4 linked regions of the Homo sapiens genome follow. The protein of the gene in region 2 purifies or fractionates together with the protein of the main gene of each other region. This does not show direct contact. Each region holds a gene or a part of one and is shown on either strand. Other genes may lie near its edges.

Region 1 (4,787 bases), on a different chromosome or scaffold from region 2:
ACCACTATTTGAGAAAGGGCCAAGGAGCTGAAGAAATGACAGCCAGAGAAATAAAAGAAGAAACAGGCTGATGGATGACCAGGAGATGAGTTTCAGAGGAAAGTGGTTAGCTAGCAGTATCATATGTTACAGAAAGGGCACGCAGGATGTGGACTAACAAAAGTGTGTTGAACTTAACAGTCAGGCCCCATGATGACATTTCAGAGTTCAGAAGGGCAACAGGAGCACCTGCCAGGTGTGTTGAGGTCAGGAGTAGGTAGCAGAGGCAGCAGGTCGTGGCTTCTGCTTCCTAAAGTTTAGCAGTGAGGAGTGAGATGGGGTTGTGGTGCTGGCATAAGCAGGCTCAGAGAGAGCTGGTTTTTCACTCCTCTTCTCTCTGCTTTTACAATCCTATTTACAGCCTGAGAAAAGTGAGTGAGAAGAAATTGGAGACACACAGACTCTGAAGAAGTTGAAAGAAATTGATATAAAACACAGAGAAATAGATATTAATAAACTATTAATACCTATTCAGGTAGTCTAGGAGCCTGCATCATCCTTGCCTACAGAGGTTGGCAGAGACTCTTCCCAGCTTCTTGCAGCAGAGTGCAAGCTGACTCTTCCATATAACCCCTGGCATTGGCGTAATATGTGCATATTAGTTGCAGGATGAATAAATGGATGATGATTTAGTCACAAGCCACACTATGTCTGTCTTGGCTGAGTCCCTTAGACAGTAGTGATTTTTACAAACACCACTGCACATGAACATCCAGAGTGAATAAGAAGTTGGGAAAGGCAATTGCGGTTGAAGCATTTGTGATGTGTTTCCCACTTCCCCTAATCATCCTCAACAAACAAGAAATAGAGGTCAAACATGATTGTATCTCACATGCCATGCATATGACCCCTCACCTCGGTTCTTTGCCATATAAATGATTTTTGCTATTGATTATAGCAGTAGTACCCATTGTGTGCTCTTTGGGGAAGCCTTTACTGTTTAAGATGATTGCCCTCTGGTGGTCTGATGTGTACCTTCTTCAGAATGTGAAAACCTGTGCATCTGCAGTAATAAAGTATATTATGCAGGAAATGAGATGAGTATTTCACCTCGAAAAATCAAATGGCTGATAAGGCATCATCTGAAGTGTACATGCTGAAAAATATGAAAATATGTTCCCCCAATCTCTGATCTTACGTATGATATAGAGAGACGTTAGCATTTAACACGATAATCCATAGCGGAACACACAAATAAAATCAGCAATCTCTGACACCAAGTTATCAACTACCTAAGAAATACACATATTTCCTGCCCAGGTATTAGGAGAAAAGTCTCATTTCTAAGAATGCTGTAGACTATATTTGTAAACATTTTGTTCATTTCTGTACCTTGCAGTTGAAGTCATTGTGTCATTGAGAAACCATGAAAATAAAAGTTTAAAAGTGATATCAGGGCAAATTGATTTCTGGAAGAAATCAAAAAAACCCCTTTTCGTGTTTGGTTTTCAGTTGTATCATAAGATACACACTTATTCAGAAGACATTTTACTGTATGCATAAAGTGGCTATTTATACCTGCAGCATTTTAAAGACACATTTTTGAAATTAACAAATGAATCTGTATAGCATGAATTATGCATATAGCAATTGATCTAGTAAGTAAATTTTTAAAATTCTGGTGGCATCATGATTCTGTAATTTATTTACAGGGCTTCTGTTATTTATAATTTTAAACTTTACTCTTCAATGTATTTTTTTTTATTTAGTTTGAACAATTTGAAAGCACCATTGGGTTTAAGCTGCCAAACCATCGAGCTGCCAAGCGTTTATGGAAAGTATGTGTTGAGCATCATACATTTTTCAGGTAGGAAGAGATTATTTTGTTTTTTCCCTAAGGAATAATTATAATCACTTATACTGAAAAAGATTGTCAATAAAAAATATGGAATTTTATTCTTTCTATCCCTTCAAGTTCATTGTCACCATATTTCTTGATAAGAAATCCTAAGAGAACTAGAAAAAGACTAAATTTGAAGGATTTTCCCTAATTTGTCATGTACTTACATGTCCCAAACCCCCCTTCTTTAGTATCTTTAGTGTGTTTACATTATTTTTAGGGTGTCCACTTCAAATATCCAATCCATTCCTTACTATTTCAATTCCTTACTATTTCAGTGATTTCTCAATACCCTGAATCCCTTTACCTACCTATGCATGGTACGAGACCCATCAAATTAGGCACCCAACACCAAATTGTCACTCTTCTTCTTCACTAATATCAAACTATTTAGTAGCTGTTTGGGCTTATAGAACCATAGACTGTCCACTTTGCGTGGAATGTTAAAAATTCATCTAGTTCAGTACAACCCTCATTTGCATATATCCTCTCTACAATATCCCTAGTTGATATATACTATATGCATTCTTTTATGAAATCAGATTTATTTAACTGCAAGTTGTGCGTTAAATGTTTAGCATGCAAAACACATGACCTCTCAGAGTAAAAAGTTTAAAAAGCACTCTCAATATTGGACTTAATAGTCTTTCTGCTGTTTTTCTTTATTCTCTTTAGACTACTGTTACCAGAAGCACCTCCCAAGAAATTCCTAACCTTGGGTTCCAAGTTTCGTTATAGTGGCAGGACACAAGCGCAAACGAGAAGAGCCAGTGCGTTGATAGATCGCCCAGCACCTTACTTTGAACGCTCATCCAGCAAACGTTATACCATGTCTCGCAGCTTGGATGGAGGTAGGCATCGCTTACTGGCCCTTAATAACCTAGTACCTACCCCAAAAAGAATGTGAAACTGTCATGAGCTTTCAGTAAGTATAGATATTCCTGGATATTGTATGTTGAAAAGCAGTTGTTGCTTATTGACTGAATGGCACATTTTTAAGTCTCCCCCAGCGAAATGAAAGTCCCTTTGTCAGTCTAACATCTGCAGGTTTATGTAAAATTACATAAAAGAATGGCACTTCGGGAATGAAGAAAATAGCTTTCATAAGCTGACACCCTGAATTTGGAGAAAGATGCTCTCATTCTAAATATAGTAGTCACATACTCTGTGATTTGATTCTCTTGCCAACAGGTCTTAAAGGATTGGTAGGTTTAAGACCATTTGTTTTATAAATCTATAAGTTAAATTTATTTCTGTTTCTAAAAAATCTTTATGAATAAAGTGTGACCTTTATCAGTCAGTTGATAATAGCTGGTAGAAAGGATGACATTCAAATAACAGAGCACAGGGTTGTAAGTTAAATTCTCCTAGTTGTGCTAATTACTACCCCAGATGGACTGGGAGAACAGTGCTAGGTAGGGGTTCTGTACTGCCAAGTTAAATTAGTCAAATGGAGAGATGATCATTCAAACTACCTTTTTAGGGGATAACACAACAGTGAATTTTTAGTAGGGTTTTGTTTTATCGAACAGTTTCTTGATTGCTCTCTGAAGTAATATGGAGGTACACTTTCTGCTGCAAGGCGTGCCCGCTGTAACAATACTCTGGAACTGAATCATGTCTAGGTCTCTGTCTTCTCATTTGGAGCACCTGGAGATTTGTTGTTTTTAATAGAAGATCTTATCCTGTGCAAATAAAAAGAATTAGGAGTTTCTGGTATGCAAGTATGGTTTAAATAATAAGGAAAAACATAAATAAAAATAAACAAAAGTTACAAGTGCATGGTACCATCTCCTTTCCTACCTTTTTTGCCACTGTTCCCCTGAGAGTCTCAGCTCTGCCTTCCCCATTTCACTAGCCGGGTGATTGATGGGGAGAGGTGCTCCTTGAATCTCCCAACTAAAAACAACTGTCTTTTTCTAATGGAATACTTTATGAACAGTTTATAGAAGAAATCAAAATGGCATTATTAGTGCTATATTATGTATGTTACTAGCGAGGTGGAAACTGTACTCTTGTGGCATGGGTAAATCCAGATTGAAGTCCAGGCTCTGCTGCCCTCTGTCTCTGCGGTGGTTGACAAATGATTTCAGCTCTCCAGGTCTGTTTTAGTCATCTGTATAATAGGAATAAGGCCGCCTTTGACGGGGCTGTTGTGAAAAGCAAGATATATGTGAAAGCACTCTTGTTACATAGGTAATTATCTCAATAATCATATTGATAATTACTCTTTTTTCACATTTTTTTAAAATTTCAGTAGCTTTTGAGATACAAGCAGTCGGTTTTTGGCCACATGGCTGAATTGTATAGTAGTGAAGTCTGAGATTTTAGTGCACCTGTCACCTGAGTAGTGCACATTGTACCCAATATGTAGTTTTTTATCCGTCACCACCACCCCCGCCACTGTCTGCCTTCTGAGTCTCCAGTGTCCATTATATTACTCTGTGCCTTTGCATACCCATAGCTTAGCTCCCACTTATACATGAGAACGTATGGTATTTGGCTTTTCATTCCTCAGTTACTTCATGTAGAATAATGACCTTCAGCTCCATCCAAGTCACTTCAAAATACATGATTTCATTCATTTTTATGACTGAGTAGTATTCCATGATGTATATATACCACATTTTATATTCATAATTATTCTTACAGGCTTTTGTGAGCTAGCCTAGGAAGTTAATTGCCATTGTGTGTCTTCTAAGAGTTTCCAGAATACCGAACTTAGAGCCAGCCCTTTTGAATAAAATAATTACCAGGACTGTTTCGAGCTGAATTAAGATATTGAAATATCGATGTTAACATTGAAGCTTTTCTTTCTGGTTTATCCTATTGACTCTTGTTTCTCCTTTAGAGTGTCTCTATTACCTATTTCTATATGTTATCAGTATTTGAGGAACTTTGTAGAATC
Region 2 (5,525 bases):
CTCGGGAGGCTGAGGCTGGTGGATCACTCGAGGTTAGGAGCTGGAGACCAGCCGGGCCAACACAGCGAAACCCCTTCTCCACCAAAAAAACCAGTCAGGCGTGGCGGCGCGCGCCTGCAATCGCAGGCACTCGGCAGGCTGAGACAGGAGAATCAGGCAGGGAGGTTGCAGTGAGCCGAGATGGCAGCAGCACAGTCCAGCTTCTGCTCGGCATGAGAGGGAGACCGTGGAAAGAGAGGGAGAGGGAGACCAAGGGGAGAGGGAGAGGGAGAGGGAGCTTAAAAATTGTTAAATTGTTATACATTTAAGGAAAAAACAGTGACACTGGAGGGGCGAGGCCAGTGGAGGTGCTGTGTGACCTCGGGCAGAGCCCCACCCATCTCTGGGCCTTTGGGGTCCGTCTGCGAAATGAATTGAGGGAGGCGCTGGCTCAGTAGTCCCTTCAGGGTTACCTAATCCCGCTTCTCCTCCCGGACTTAACGGCCTACTGTCTCCCCTCTAGTATCCATTGAAACCTGGCCTAAGGTCCCAGACCTTCCTTTCAACTCCAAAGACCCATCCTCCCAGGCAGCCTTCCAGGCTGATCACTGTGCCTCCAACTCCGTCGTTCCTGTTCCGATCCCCATCACGGGCTGAGGGTGACCGTGTTTGTTTATGACCGCCCCCTCCACCCACACACCTCACTGAGGTGGTGGAAGTCTCCTGAGCCAGGCTCAGAGGCGGACAGTCACGGCAGGGGATGGGTTCAGCGGCAGCGCATTACGCTGCCACGAGAGGGCGCCAGCGTCCCGCAGACGACGCAGAGGCAACTCCCGCTGGAGAAACTCCATGCGACTTTTCTTTGGGGAAACTGAAGCCCAGAGAGAGGTCACGCCGTCCCGTGGCCACACCGCAGCTGTGGACCTGGGGGTGCCCGAGCGTCCCCTGCATTCAGCTCTGTGGCGGGACGGGGGCTGAGGATGACTGGAGCAGGCACAAGGGCTGCGGGGAAGGTAGGGTTTGCCAGAGGCTGAAAATTGGGAAGGGAACATCATTTCGTAGGTACCGCTCCTGGGCGAATGCGCCGAGGCGCGACCGAGTGACGGTATGTCAAGAGCAGGTTGATGACCCGGGAGCGAGGCTCTTGGAGGAGTCCAGCTGGGGCTGCACGATGATCCATGCACAACCTTCTGAGGTCAGGACTGATTTTTACTTTCTCCCGGCTCTACAGAGGTGGAAACTGAGGCTCCAAGAGGTTGTCATTTGCCCAGAGCCACCAGCTAAGCGGGACTTGAATCAGGAAAGGGGTGCAGCAGGCACCAGTGTGGAGGGCGGTCCCACCCACCTCCTCCACTTCTCCCTTTGCATAGCGGGGGAAACAGGCCTGGAACAGTCATAGGCTCTCTGGCCCTCAACTGGGGCGAGAGTCCCCCGCCCCAAATCGGGCTGGACATGCCTCGAGTCACGTCAACGAGGGGCGGCTGGTGAGTGATTAAGCCGAGAGGCTGAAGGCTCTGCTAGGTGACCTCAGGCCTGGGCCCTGCCTCTGCACCTCTTTTTTTCCTCTTTACCCCCGGGGTCCGCGAGAGACCAGCTCTGGCAGCCTAAGGGCTTCAGTTTCTCCCCGGGGTCCGCGAGGGAAGGGGGCAGCCGGCGGTGAGCAGGGGCGTTTGTTATTTTGCTCCACGCCTGGGCAGAGCCACGCCCCTTGTCGCGCTATTGGTGGAGTCCCTTCCCGGGGCGGGGAAGAGACGGTGACCCCACCCCCCCCCGCCCTGCCGTATAAAAGCGGCGCCGACGCACGGCGCGGGGATTTTCTGCTCCGGTTGGTGAGCGCGCCTGCGCGTTGACGGCGATTTTGCGTTCTGAGGCTGCAGCGTCGGCATCTTGAGCTGCCGGTTCGCGAGTTCGAGGCCAGGTTCCGCCTGTCGTGGGTTCGCACCCCGGACGCGATGCTATTCGACAAGGTGAAAGCGTTCTCGGTGCAGTTGGACGGCGCGACCGCGGGCGTCGAGCCCGTGTTTAGCGGCGGCCAGGCCGTGGCGGGCCGGGTGCTGCTGGAGCTGTCAAGCGCCGCGCGTGTGGGTGCCCTGAGGCTGCGCGCGCGGGGCCGCGCCCACGTGCACTGGACCGAGTCGCGCAGCGCGGGCTCGAGCACGGCTTACACGCAGAGCTACAGTGAACGCGTGGAGGTCGTGAGCCACCGCGCCACGCTCCTGGCGCCAGGTACGGATGGAGGACCCCTGCTCCAACACCAGTTGTGTGCCTCCCACCACCTGGACGGCGGTACCTCCGTCAGCCCTGGGACCCCAGCGCAACCGCTCAGTCGCCTCCTTTTTCTCCTACCTGCAGATACCGGGGAGACCACGACGCTGCCTCCTGGGCGCCATGAGTTCCTGTTCAGCTTCCAGCTGCCCCCGTAAGTCCTCTGGGGTGCAGGGTTGCCCTAAGCCTGCAGCCCCTTCCAGATTGGTACCTCCAATACTGGATATCTGGGCACCTCTGAGCCCCAAGACTCTCCCCCTGGGAGGCCCCCGGAGTGTCTGTGTCTCCTTCTCCCTGCCTGCTTGTCTCTGTATCTTGTCCCCTGAAGTCCCGTCCCTCCACCCTAGGACCCTGGTGACATCCTTCGAGGGCAAACACGGTAGTGTCCGCTACTGTATCAAGGCCACCCTGCACCGGCCCTGGGTCCCAGCACGCCGGGCAAGGAAGGTGTTCACTGTCATCGAGCCTGTGGACATCAACACGCCAGCCCTGCTGGTGAGTGGCCACCCTTGGGGAGGTAGGTTGGGAGTATTGTAGGAAGGGGCCTGCCTGGCTGCTGGGCGACACCAACCAATAAGATGGAGGTCATAGGTGGGCCCTGGCAGGGAGGGAGGCAGGTGTGGGAATGCGTGTGGAATCCACTGGGATCTGCACCCATTTGCCGTGTGACTCTGGGCAAGTGTCTTGAAGCCCTCTCTGAGCCTCAGATGCCTCTTCTGTGAAATAGACCAGAGCTAGGGCTTACCAAGTGTGAATTACACACCAAACACTTGGCTTATACATTTCATTTCTGGCTTTATAAGATGGGTTGTGTTCCTGGCTCTATTTAACGGATAGTTCCTGGATTGTTAAAAAGAAACCAAGCCCTGCCCAAAGTCCTCCCTCAGCTGGGGGTGGTTTGGAAGCTCCACAGCGACTGTGGTTTGCACAAAGTGACTCATCCATGTCACTTTCCTCTACACCGACAGGCACCTCAAGCGGGGGCTCGGGAAAAGGTTGCCCGATCCTGGTACTGTAACCGTGGCCTAGTCTCCCTTTCGGCCAAGATCGACCGCAAGGGCTACACCCCAGGTAGCAGGCGGACCGGACTGGGTTGGGACGGGGGCTGGTGTTGGGGTTGCAGGAGGGGAAACTGAGGCCCCACTGCTCCTTGCTGCAGGAGAGGTCATCCCTGTCTTTGCCGAGATCGACAACGGCTCCACACGTCCTGTGCTGCCTCGGGCAGCCGTGGTGCAGACACAGACGTTCATGGCCCGAGGCGCCCGAAAGCAGAAACGGGCAGTGGTGGCCAGCCTCGCGGGCGAGCCGGTGGGCCCCGGGCAGCGGGCGCTGTGGCAGGGCCGGGCACTGCGGATCCCCCCAGTGGGTCCTTCCATCCTGCACTGCCGCGTTCTACACGTGGACTACGCACTCAAGGTAGGGCATCCTGCTGGCCCTGGGGGACAGTGCCTACATTCACCCTGTATTCCCTCAGACTGGGGGAAGCTGAGGCCTCAGTCTCCCCAGGCATAGGAGGGAGGTGGGGGTTGGGGAGGCTGCCTGGGCACCCTCCCTTATGGTTCCTTCCTCCAGGTCTGTGTGGATATCCCAGGAACGTCCAAGCTGCTGCTGGAGCTGCCACTGGTGATCGGCACCATTCCCTTGCACCCTTTTGGCAGCCGTTCCTCCAGCGTGGGCAGCCACGCCAGCTTCCTGCTGGACTGGAGGCTGGGGGCCTTGCCGGAGCGGCCTGAGGGTAAGCTCCCACCCTGCTTGCATGCAGAGGGTGGGTGGATACACGGAGAGGTGGATGCCGGGTCAACTCTCTCACCACGAGTCCCCCGGAATCCCAACCAAAGGACATACAGCCTGGCAGCCCCAGAGCTGGCACAAGCCAGCTCCTGGCCCCTGGTCCCTTGGAGCAGGGCTCTCTCCTGCCAACCTCACCCACCCTGTCTCTCGCTTCCAGCTCCTCCTGAGTACTCGGAGGTGGTAGCCGACACTGAGGAGGCAGCCTTGGGGCAGAGCCCCTTCCCGCTTCCGCAGGACCCCGACATGAGCCTTGAAGGCCCGTTCTTCGCCTACATCCAAGAGTTCCGCTACCGCCCGCCACCCCTGTACTCTGAGGTGAGCTCAGGGGTCTGAGAACCACCCATGCCTCTCTGGGCCCTGGGAGCCTTGATGGGGTGGCAGACATAGTAGATGGGTTTTTTTTGTTTTTTTGTTTTTTTAGACAGGGTCTTGCTCTGTCACCCAGGCTGGAGTGCAGTGGCATAATCATAGCTCACTGCAGCCTCGACCTCCCGGGCTCAAGCAATCCTTTCGCCTCAGCCTCTTGAGTAGCTGGGACTACAGGCACACGCCACCACATCCTGCTAATTTTTGTGTTTTGTTTTGTTTTGCTTTGCTTTTTGAGATGGAGTTTCAGTCTTGTCACCCAGGCTGGAGTGCAATGGTGCGATCTCAGCTCACTTCAACTTCCGCATCCCTGGTAGAGCGATTCTCCTGCCTCAGCCTTCCGAGTAGCTGGGATTACAGGTGTTAGCCACCACACGTGGCTAATTTTTGTATTTTTAGTAGAGACGGGGTTTCACCATGTTGGTCAGGCTGGTCTTGAACTCCTGACCTCAGGTGATGGCCTGCCTCGGCATCCCAAAGTGCTGGGATTATATGCGTGAGCTACCACGCCCGGCCAATTTTTGTATTTTTTGTAGAAATGTGGTCTCACTGTGTTGCCCAGGCTGGTCTTGAACTCCTGGGCTCAAATGATCCTCCCATCTTGGCCTCCCCAAAGTGCTGGGATTACAGGCGTCAGCCACTGTGCCCGGCTGGCAGAGGATTTTAATTGTTGACAGAATTTCGCTACATACAGTCGGCCCTCTGCGTTAGCTGGTTTGGAATCTGCAGATTCAACCAAACATGGGTCAGAGACATTTGAAAAATAAATACATACATGGATAATACAGATTAAAAATATGATAGGCTGGGTGCGGTGGCTCATGCCTGTAATCCCAGCACTTTGAGAGGCCAAGATGGGAGGACTGCTTGAGGCCAGAAGTATAAGACCAACCTGGGTAACATAGCAAGACCCCCATCTCTACTGCAAATAATACAAAATTACCCAGGCTTGGTGGAGCCCATCTATGATTGGGAGGCTGAGGCAGGAGGATCGCTTGAGCCCAGGAGTTTGAGGCTGCAGTGAGCAATGATTGTGCTACTACATACTCCAGTCTGGGAGACAAAACAAGACCTCATCTCAATACTACTACTAATAGTAATAATGCAGTATAACAGTGATTAAA
Region 3 (4,787 bases), on a different chromosome or scaffold from region 2:
GTGTGAGCCATCACGCCCGGTCCCCCTTTATGATTAAAATCTCAGTTGCTTTGTTAGTATAGTAGTTAATAAGATGAATGTTGGAAAACAAGTATCAGTATCTGAACAAGAAATGGAACCCAGAGAGTGTTTAAAAATATTAATTTTGGCCAGGCGTGGTGGCTCATGCCTGTAATCCCAGCACTCTGGGAGGCTGAGGTGGGCAGATCATGAGGTCAGGAGATCAAGGTCATCCTGGCTAACATGGTGAAACCCCATCTCACTAAAAACACAAAAAATTAGCCGGGCATGGTGGCGGGCGCCTGTGATCCCAACTACTCGGGAGGCTGAGGCAGGAGAATGGCGTGAACCCAGGAGGCGGAGCTTGCAGTGAGGCGAGATTGCGCCACTGCTCTCCAGCCTGGGTGACAGAGCAAGACTCCATCTCAAAAATATATATATATATTAATTTTTAATTGAACTATTTTTGAAAGAAGAGCAAATACAACTCTAAGGGGAAAGACAGTTATTCCAGCTTTCTCTTGGAAGGTAAGTAATGGCATACTGTAGGTAGCCCCTATCAGTTAAGACTTTTAAAGCTGGTAGTACTTCTGCAGGATTCTGCAGAGAAACCATCTGACTTCAAAGATAATGTATACTCGTCACTGTAGGTGATTTGACAAATACAGAAAATTAGGAAGAAGGAAATAAAAATCAATCCTCTTACCCCTCCCAATGATAACCACTATAAATGTATTTTAAAATGCATGGATGTGGAGCTGTGGTTCTGGGAGGTGGAGGGAGCATACTCCATCTTGCCTCTCCCACTGTCTGTGGCTGTAAGACCTGGACATGTGCATGGAGCAGCTGTTGAGGACTCCGACAAGTAAACGGTAACAGGCGGATGGGAGAGAAGGCCAGAATTTGAAGCACCACTTTGCACCAGTAGTGAGTTTCTTGTCTTCCCTTCAGCATCCCCTGCCCTGGACTCTGGCTGTCCAAAACCTGAAGGCAGGTACCCAGTATGAACAGGGAGAGCTACAGAGTAGTTTTGTAGTTGGGCCCCAAGACAGAAAGTGGGAGAAAGCCATTATTTTTTTCCCTCTTGCTTCCTCTCCTCCACTCAGCCCTGCAGTGGCAGGAGTGTGTGAACACCTAAAACTCTTAGGGAATGGGGAAAACCCCAGTTGCCTTTTTATTCTCTTCCCTCCTGCAGCTCAGTCCCAGGCAAGATGCAGGCACAAGAATAGCATGGCTAAACGGAGTAATTAAAGCCGTAGGTTTCTGGTTGGAGTCTGAAAAGGGGAGCCCAGGTCACTGGAAGGGATACTAGGGAGATTCCAGAGAGGGAATTGCTCAGGAAAGTGACCCCATGAAGTTGTTAGTTAACTTATAGGCTCAACACTGAGCTATGCACGCGTGATGTGAGCCAGAACAGGTTGCCAAAGACGGAACTCGGCTATGGGATAGACCATCGCCTGGAAGGCAGGCTGGCCACCAAGCAAGTAGGGACCGCAGGACATTGCTGAGGAGCACTGCAAAGGCTTTGAAAGTGAAAGTGACACTGATACCATGTTCTACAGAAGGCTGGTCAGGACCTGGGGACTGAATCCAGCCAGGCCAGTGCCTGCTCAACAAAATACCAGCATTCCCCATAGGATTTAAACAAGATCAAGAGTCTCTAAGAGTGTGATGTTAAAAATGTCCAGGATACAATGCAAAATTTACTCAGCATGTGAAGAACCAGGAAAATAACTCGTGAAAAAAGACACAGGCTAAAGCTGAGGTGGTGCCTATGTTGGAATTATCTGATAGACTGTGGTCTGCAGATTTGTGGCCTCCATGAGCTTGACCTCCTAGTGTTTATCCTGGGAGTATGTGACTGATTTGGCAAAAGCACATTGCAGATGTAATGAAGGGTACGAATCAACTAGCCTGGATTCGTTGTCTAGATTATCCAGGTGGGCCTTAGGTAATTATATGAGCCTTTAAAAGCAGGGATCTTCCTCCAGCTGGTAGCAGATGGGGAAGGCAGAGAGACTGGAAGTATAAGAAGTTTTCAACGTAACATTTCTGGCATGGAAGATGGAAGGGGCCATGAGCCAAGGAATGAGAATGACAAACAGCTGACAGCCAGCAAGAACTAAGGACCTCAGTCCTCTACCCACACAGACTTGAATGAGCCTGTAAGTGTATTCTCCCCCAAGGAAATCCACATAAGACCCCAGGTCAGCTGACACCTTGACTTAGACCTTTTGAGACCCTAAGCAGAGAATTCTGGTGAGTTACATTACACTCAAACTTCTAACCCGTAGACACTGTGAGATAATAAAAGGCTGTTATTTTAAGCTGCTAAGTTTGTGGAAATTTGTTAAGGCTACAGTTAAAAAATAAATAAAACTTTATAAAGCCCCTATTATTAAAATAGTCCAAGAAGTAAAGCTACTCTTGAAACAGATGGAAATATAGAAAGTCTTGGCAAGAAAACAGAAGATATAAAGAAGTGGGAATTTTAGTGAAAAATACAATAACTGAAATAAAATGGATGAAAGAGTGAATTCATAATGCATGGATTTACAGTTCTTTAAATCAGTTTTTTGTTTGTTTTTAATCTTTTTAATACTTTTCATTTTTTCTTGACAACTATTCCTTCACAGTCATTTTTAATATATCTTTTCTGCTCTACATCCTGAGAGAAACTTCTCTAGTAATGAACTGTAGAAATAATCCCTGTAAATATAGTCTTATGTTTTTTAGTCTTGAAGAATTTGCACTGTAATCTGTTGGACTGGGAGCCATGCCGGATATTAGTCTCACCCCTGCACAAATCAGGTCTGTGGCCTTGAGCAAGCAGCTTCGTTTTCAAGGCTGTAGTTTCTTATGGAAAGTAGAGACTGGGCCAGGATTTCATAAAGTAGGAGCTTCTCTCTCCCTCTCTCTCAGCTTGAACTCTTGCATGGGTTCCTTGAATCCTTATGTACATCAAAAATTATTGCTAGATTTGTTTTTTGTTTTGACTTGTGGAAAATTCCAAACATTCACAAAAGTAGAGAAAATAATAAATCAAAGCCCATGTATACAGCATCAATAATCAACACATGGACAATCTTTTTTTCCTGTACCCACTTCCACTGATCCCCAACTCGTTGGATTATTTTTAAGTAAATGCTAGATATTATTTCATTTTATCCATAAATGCTTTAGTATCCATCTCTAAGAGAGGGACTTTTTTCCCCTTCATGTACCCACAATACCACTAAAACACTAGAAAATAATATTAACCTCTTAATATCATCTGATGCTTAGTTAGCATTCGTATTTCTCTGATCTGTAAATATTTGATTCAGGATTCAAATGAGGTCCTATATATAGCATTTGATAACATCATACCTTATAGATAACATGTCTTAGTAGTTTTTATTTACACACATACACACACCGTTTCCTTTTTTTGTTGCCATTTACCAAAGAGACAAGGTCATTTCTCCTGTAGGATTTCTTTGTGGTTCTTTTATTCCTTAGGATATATTTTCCTGGTGACGTAGAATGAAGTTACTGGGCTTTGAAGTCACTTGAAGTAATTTTCTTTAGTTTAGCTGATGTCTTGATTTACAGTTAAGACCATTTGTTTCATTTCGTTTGGGTTTTTAGGACTTGCTTTTCTAAAATATTGATTTAATTTTGCTTTCTAATTATGTGAAACCATTTATGAGGTTCCCGTATCAAAACTACTAAACACCGTGTACAGTTTCCAACATTGTTTACCCCTTTCACTTCCTCCCTCATAGGTAACCATTTTCATTAGTTTTTGGTTTATGCTCTTTTTTTTTTTTTAATATAAACAAATACATACCACTTTGGGAGGTTAAAGCAGTGGCATCACTTGAGCCTGAGAGTTCGAGACCAGCCTGGGTAACCTAGTGAGACCTCATCACTACTAAAAAAAAAAAAATATATATATATATATACGTATATATATATATATACACACACACATATATATTTTCTTCCTCTTTTAACAGAGGTTAGCATGCCATGCACCTGGTTTTGCACCTTTTATTCACTTTCACACCAAAGCAGCATATACAGATCTTGCTTTTTTCTGTAAAGATTTTGATGTTAAATTGGATGGCTTCATACCATCCCCCACAGAAGTGTTGAGAATCAGTTATCCAGATTCACTTCAGCTCCTAAAACTTCTGCTTTTCAGTTTGTAGAATTTTGTTTAACATAAAATCAGGATACCAGGTTGTAGAGGATCTAAAATACACTCTAAAGGAAATAATACATCCGTTTAGTGTTCAGGCAATTAAAAAAAATAACCTGGGGAGTAAAAGTAAGATTTTCAAATATTAGTTATGTAGAAAGAAATCTCTTTGGAACAATTAGTCTGTGTACTATGTTGCTGAATTTGTCTGAAAGTGATCTTCCTTTTCTTGCACACATTTAGCCACTGTTGCATTATGCTAAGGTAGGAAGATTGTGATAACATGATTTTATGGGGTATATTTAATTTTTGGCTACCAAACACTATAAATTAGTAGAAATCAAGAACACATTTTCTTTCCATTTGTTCTCACATTGAGCTGCCTTATCACAGAATCATGGATTCTTAGACCTGAAAAATATCTGATTAACCCTTCCCTTCCTCTGTCATTTTCCAGTTGAAAAAGCTGGGGCTGGGAGTGGTGCCGTGACTCAGTTTGTTAATGGCAGAGTTGAAATTGAAACCTGAGTGTGCTGGCCCTGAATTTCCACCATCCCCAGCTGCTGCTGCCTCCTTCCTTGTTCCCCATTAGCACCTGCCT
Region 4 (4,787 bases), on a different chromosome or scaffold from region 2:
AGATACTTACCAGTTTCACCTATTTACTTTCTATTCCTAGGCTGCAAAGAAAATCATGAACAGCTTTAATTTGTAATCAAATGCTTTTCTCCTTTTGTCTGGGAATTACTCTGAATAATTTTTACCATGTACACACTGGTGTTTACATTGTGTCACTGGAGCACATATCCTTGGTCATGACTTTAAAATACATTGCTACATTTGGTTTGCTAGCTTTTAACTTAAGTTTTGAGAATAATTGCTCATGTATGAAATCAGTCTACAGTCAGTTTTCTTCTTTCACTCCTTGTTTTGTAGTGACCTCGCAATAAGCAGGGAGGCATTCCTTCTTGTAATGGCTGGAATGGTCTCTAAGACTAAAGCTCTAAGCACAGGCTTAGCTTCAGTCCTTAAGTTTTGACAGACATTTTTCCCATTATTCTCTCAGTTTTAGGTTTTTAATATCCATTACAATTCCTTTTTTGAGTTTAGAAGTGAATTTCTAAGGGTCACGTTCTTTTAAAGCTATCATTTTGCTACTGAATTTTCATGACTGCATTATGTCCTGAGATAATCATCTGTATGTTACTGAAAATAAGTAAAGGTTTTTGTAAAACCAGTCGACCTGAAACCGGTTTTCATGGGCCATGCTCTGTAGCCTGTTACACAAGCCAATTTCTATTGTGATTAAAGATTTATCAATTCTCATAGTTCTATCAAACTGCTAGATGTAAAATACAGTCTTCTGAACACATTTATGGGGGAAAAGGCACTTAGGGGCCTAAACTCTCCATCTCTTCATTAAGATTTATTGTGTTTAATGGAGACAACAGAAAGACATCAAGCTAGTATCTGAACATTCATTTGAATCAAATTAAAAATTTTAATGTTTGAGGTTTCTGCCCCACCATCCTCCCAATAACCTGAAGCTACCAGCAGGATCTCACCCCTGGTTACCTTTTGAAGACCGCAGTCTCTGTCTTGGCATCTACAGTGAGGCTGAGCGTTTCCTTCATGCCGCCATTCATCACTGTCTCAGTTACCTTGTCTGTACTTTCTGCATCCTCCTCTCCGTCAGAGCTGGCTTCCATGGCCACACTGCCTGCCGCTGAAAAGAACACAGCTGATGGTCACACACAGCAAGCCCGAAAAGGAACTGGCACCCCACCACTGTACAAACCCATCTACCCAACGTGACATCTACTGCTTGAAGAAAAAAAAGAGTGAGATGGCTTCTGCCTGCTGTTGTCTGGGCCACATTCTTGATGGGGAGAGACTTCTTAAAGATGCCCACTAAAGAGGGGTTTCATGGGTTTTCTTTACTAGAGACTAGCAAGTCGCCTACATCCCTCCCAGCTCAGCGTCCACCTCCATACCCAGCTTCTCCCAGCAGACACTTGTGCTCCTAACTGTTCCAGTGTGGGGCAGAGCAGGCAGTTACACACTCTACCCTCTACTCACTTGTTTTCCTCAGTTGGGCTCTATTTGCTTTGCTTTGTTTTAAAAATTACTTTCTTGTGGTGTTGCTGGTGGATCGTTTCTTTGTTCTCTAATGGGAAGCCAACATAGGTGATGAGCCTGGCTGAGGTGAGGCTTCCTGGATTCAAACATCGACATCACCACTTCCTAGCTGTAGACTACTTGGACAAGGAACCTCATCTATAACCTGAGTTTCCTCATCCAGGAAAGGGGATCAGTGCACCCACTTACAGAACCACTGAGGAGTCAAATGCGGGAATCTGTATCAAATGTTCAGGAGGATGATGAAACCAGCATTAGTTATTGGTTTTATTCCTTTCCCTTGCCCCTGGGAAGGAGGGTTCTCACACCCTCTACCAAAACCTCATTTCATTTTCTAAGAACTCACTCCTTAAGCCCACCTCATGATTCGTGCCCTCCACATCCTTTTGGTTCCCATCACACTCCCTTTGCTAGCATCCCCCTCCTCCCAAAGCCCCGTCCATCAAGGTGAAAACAGTTCAGGGCCGTGCAAGGAACACATTTGACTAGGTAGAGTAATAGGAAAACCCACTGGAACTTTAGAGATTCCCAGGACTATTCAATCTGCTTACAATGGCGAAGTGAAAATAACCAGCCCCATAGCTCTAAACAAACCCAGATACACCTACATGCTTGAGCAAAGCAAACTCCAAGGGACAACTACACACAGGCTTGGCTGCACACGTCTAATTCCAGTTTTATTCACCCTGGGTACTATGGGCTTAGGCCTTCTTCCCTCTAGACCTCAGTTTCCTAATCTGCACACTGCATGCCTGGTAACTTAGAGCCCTTACTCTTTCCAGAGTCAGCATGCTGTGGTTCTAGAAGGACAGGCACAATTTCTTTCATCAGCTGCCCTGTGGACATCAGACCCACCATCTCACTCCCGGGCTCCACTAGCCCCTGAGCCTGAGAATCAGGTCTGGTTTGACAAAGCAGCCACGTGACCCTGGCGTGTACCCAGGCCTCTCTGCACGCACCTTCTGGCTGCACTGCCAGGGCAGCCGCACTGGGAGTCAGAGGGTCCATGGGTTCAGTGCTGGTTTCCATTTCCACTGGAGAATTACTCCTTAAAGAATCTTTTGTGCTTTCAAAAAAGAGAAAATTCAGATATTAGCAGCAGGGAATGGTCCTCAGTTACCCCAAGATTCACAATAAGCCTTTACAAGTAAGTTTTTGTTAGGAGACATTAGCATCTGTGTAAGAGTCACTGGGTTACAAACTCCAGTGACACATGGATCTAAGTGCCAGTAGCTGTTTGAAGAAGGACATGAGTGCGGGCAGGCAAATGTTCTGTTAAGCCAGCAAGGCAGTAAGACAGGGACTTTGTAAAGCATTCTAGACAGGCTCATCATGTCCCAACTTCTCATCCCACCATAGTCACTAGGAGGCTCCCAGAGCTTGAACAGCAAAGACGTACATTGTGCAATGGCAACGGTATTTATCAGGTTGACTGGTTTTACAAAAACCTTTACTTATTTTCAGCCACACTGCCTGGGAGAGACTGGCCCTCTTAATGATATTTGTTGTTGGAACTGTGGAAACATAGTAAAAAAACACCAAATGCCTGAGCAGTAAGGGGTAGGGGTGAGGGAGATCATTACACTTCCTCTTTTATCCCTCATTCCCACAAACTCAGAGACGTGCACACAGAGGGTAAAGAGAAGCAAGCTGCTTCAATCACACCCTCAAGTAACCAAAGGCTCTTATCCTCGGGTTATAAACAGACCAAAAAAAGGAGTAGGCGGAAATGTATGTCCTGTACTGAAAAGCGGGGTAGACGAAATAACTCATTATTTTGGAGACATTTTTCACAAATCTCACTTGTACCTCTGAGTAGTAACTTAATGCTATTACTATGGTTACTACAAAGCAACATGGGTTTCAGCCTATTCTTTGGTTTGTCTAAGACACTAACTGTCAGCCCAAAACAGCTTGTCTTCCTATCTTCCGAGTTACCAATGATTGGGAGCCCTTAATTGACAGCACTGGACTAGCTGCAAGTGAACTGTAAGTTCATATTATCTACTGAATTCAAGATCCATTTTGTTTGCCTGCCACACCCCACACAGAGGTGCTGTGCCTGTCAGGATTTCTTGGCTTCACCTCATTCCTCTTCTCCTCAATTCTGTCCTGACAGCTCTATGAAGCCAGAAAAGCTCACGGAGATGCATCTTCTGCTGCGTCCTGCTAACTCCCTGGGACCGCATCCTCACAAGCTACTTTGTTCAAGAACTACTCCCATTTCCAATTAATCCAGGAGGAAAGGAAAGGAAGATGGTGATTGTTCTTCTTACAACACAGAGCTGTGTTAGTATGCTGATGTTTAATCTTTTTCAGGGCAGTATATTCAACTTGGAAGTCAGTCAAGGTGAAGAACACACGTTAACAGCAAACACCTGACCATTCCCAGGTCCCCCGTGGAAGGGTGTAGAGACAGCACATGTTCGCTCACCTCAGGGAAGACGTGAACTCTGAAAAAGAAGCCCAGCCCGTCTCTTTAGTTGGCATCGGCTCCTCTGTGCTCCAGACATCAGATCCCACAGAATCCAATGGAGCACCGTGGGTTGTTTCCATTGGGACATCAAAGTTAGCTGACCAGTTGGGTGCTAAAAAGAGGGGAGAAATTCTATTTGGAAAACACTTCAGTCGTTTCATGTACCACAAGGTATTTATCAAAAACACATTAGCAAAAGAGACTGGAGCTGTGGGAGAAAGACACTCTCACCAATGAGGGCAGGAGCGGACAGGGCACAGCCACCTGGAGGGCACTCTAACAATGATCCCACATTCTCAAACCTCCCATTTCTTTTTATTATTATTTTTTTGAGATGGAGTCTCGCTCTGTCGCCCAGGCTGGAGTGCAGTGGCACGATCTCCGCTCACTGCAAGCTCCGCCTCCCGGGTTCACGCCATTCTCCTGCCTCAGCCTCCTGAGTAGCTGGGATTACTGGCACCCGCCATCACGCCTGGCTAATTTTTTGTATTTTTAGTAGAGACAGGTTTCACTGTGTTAGCCAGGATGGTCTCAATATCCCGACCTCGTGAACCGCCCGCCTTGGCCTCCCAAAGTGCTGGGATTACAGGCGTGAGCCACCGCGCCTGGCCTCAAACCTCCCATTTCTAACAACTGTTCCAAAAGAAATACTACACAGAGATTCAAAGCTACATGCACAAAGAGGGATTAATGTTAATTTCTTAGTTTTGACAAATGTACCATGGCTGTATTCATACTTGGGGAAGCTAAGTGAAGGATATATGGAGACTTACTATCTTGGCAATGTTTCTATAAATCTAAATTATTCAAA

Evidence for each region.
Region 1: the proteins of ARRDC2 (region 2) and EPB41L3 purify together in Homo sapiens (affinity purification with mass spectrometry; one large-scale study listed by BioGRID and IntAct). This does not show direct contact.
Region 3: the proteins of ARRDC2 (region 2) and FARP2 purify together in Homo sapiens (affinity purification with mass spectrometry; one large-scale study listed by BioGRID and IntAct). This does not show direct contact.
Region 4: the proteins of ARRDC2 (region 2) and PPP6R3 purify together in Homo sapiens (affinity purification with mass spectrometry; one large-scale study listed by BioGRID and IntAct). This does not show direct contact.

The regions. Positions count from the first base shown.
Region 1 is NC_000018.10:5,421,321-5,426,107, reverse strand, and holds part of EPB41L3 (band 4.1-like protein 3), read left to right. Parts: intron 1-1,748; coding exon 1,749-1,846; intron 1,847-2,554; coding exon 2,555-2,730; intron 2,731-4,787. UniProt on the Homo sapiens protein: Tumor suppressor that inhibits cell proliferation and promotes apoptosis. Modulates the activity of protein arginine N-methyltransferases, including PRMT3 and PRMT5.
Region 2 is NC_000019.10:18,006,380-18,011,904, forward strand, and holds the start of ARRDC2 (arrestin domain-containing protein 2), read left to right. Parts: upstream 1-1,790; 5' UTR 1,791-1,931; coding exon 1,932-2,205; intron 2,206-2,331; coding exon 2,332-2,398; intron 2,399-2,591; coding exon 2,592-2,739; intron 2,740-3,212; coding exon 3,213-3,315; intron 3,316-3,403; coding exon 3,404-3,660; intron 3,661-3,816; coding exon 3,817-3,979; intron 3,980-4,192; coding exon 4,193-4,350; intron 4,351-5,525.
Region 3 is NC_000002.12:241,362,175-241,366,961, forward strand, and holds part of FARP2 (FERM, ARHGEF and pleckstrin domain-containing protein 2), read left to right. Parts: intron 1-4,787. UniProt on the Homo sapiens protein: Functions as a guanine nucleotide exchange factor that activates RAC1. May have relatively low activity. Plays a role in the response to class 3 semaphorins and remodeling of the actin cytoskeleton.
Region 4 is NC_000011.10:68,599,642-68,604,428, reverse strand, and holds part of PPP6R3 (serine/threonine-protein phosphatase 6 regulatory subunit 3), read right to left. Parts: intron 4,089-4,787; coding exon 3,935-4,088; intron 2,567-3,934; coding exon 2,460-2,566; intron 1,088-2,459; coding exon 937-1,087; intron 1-936.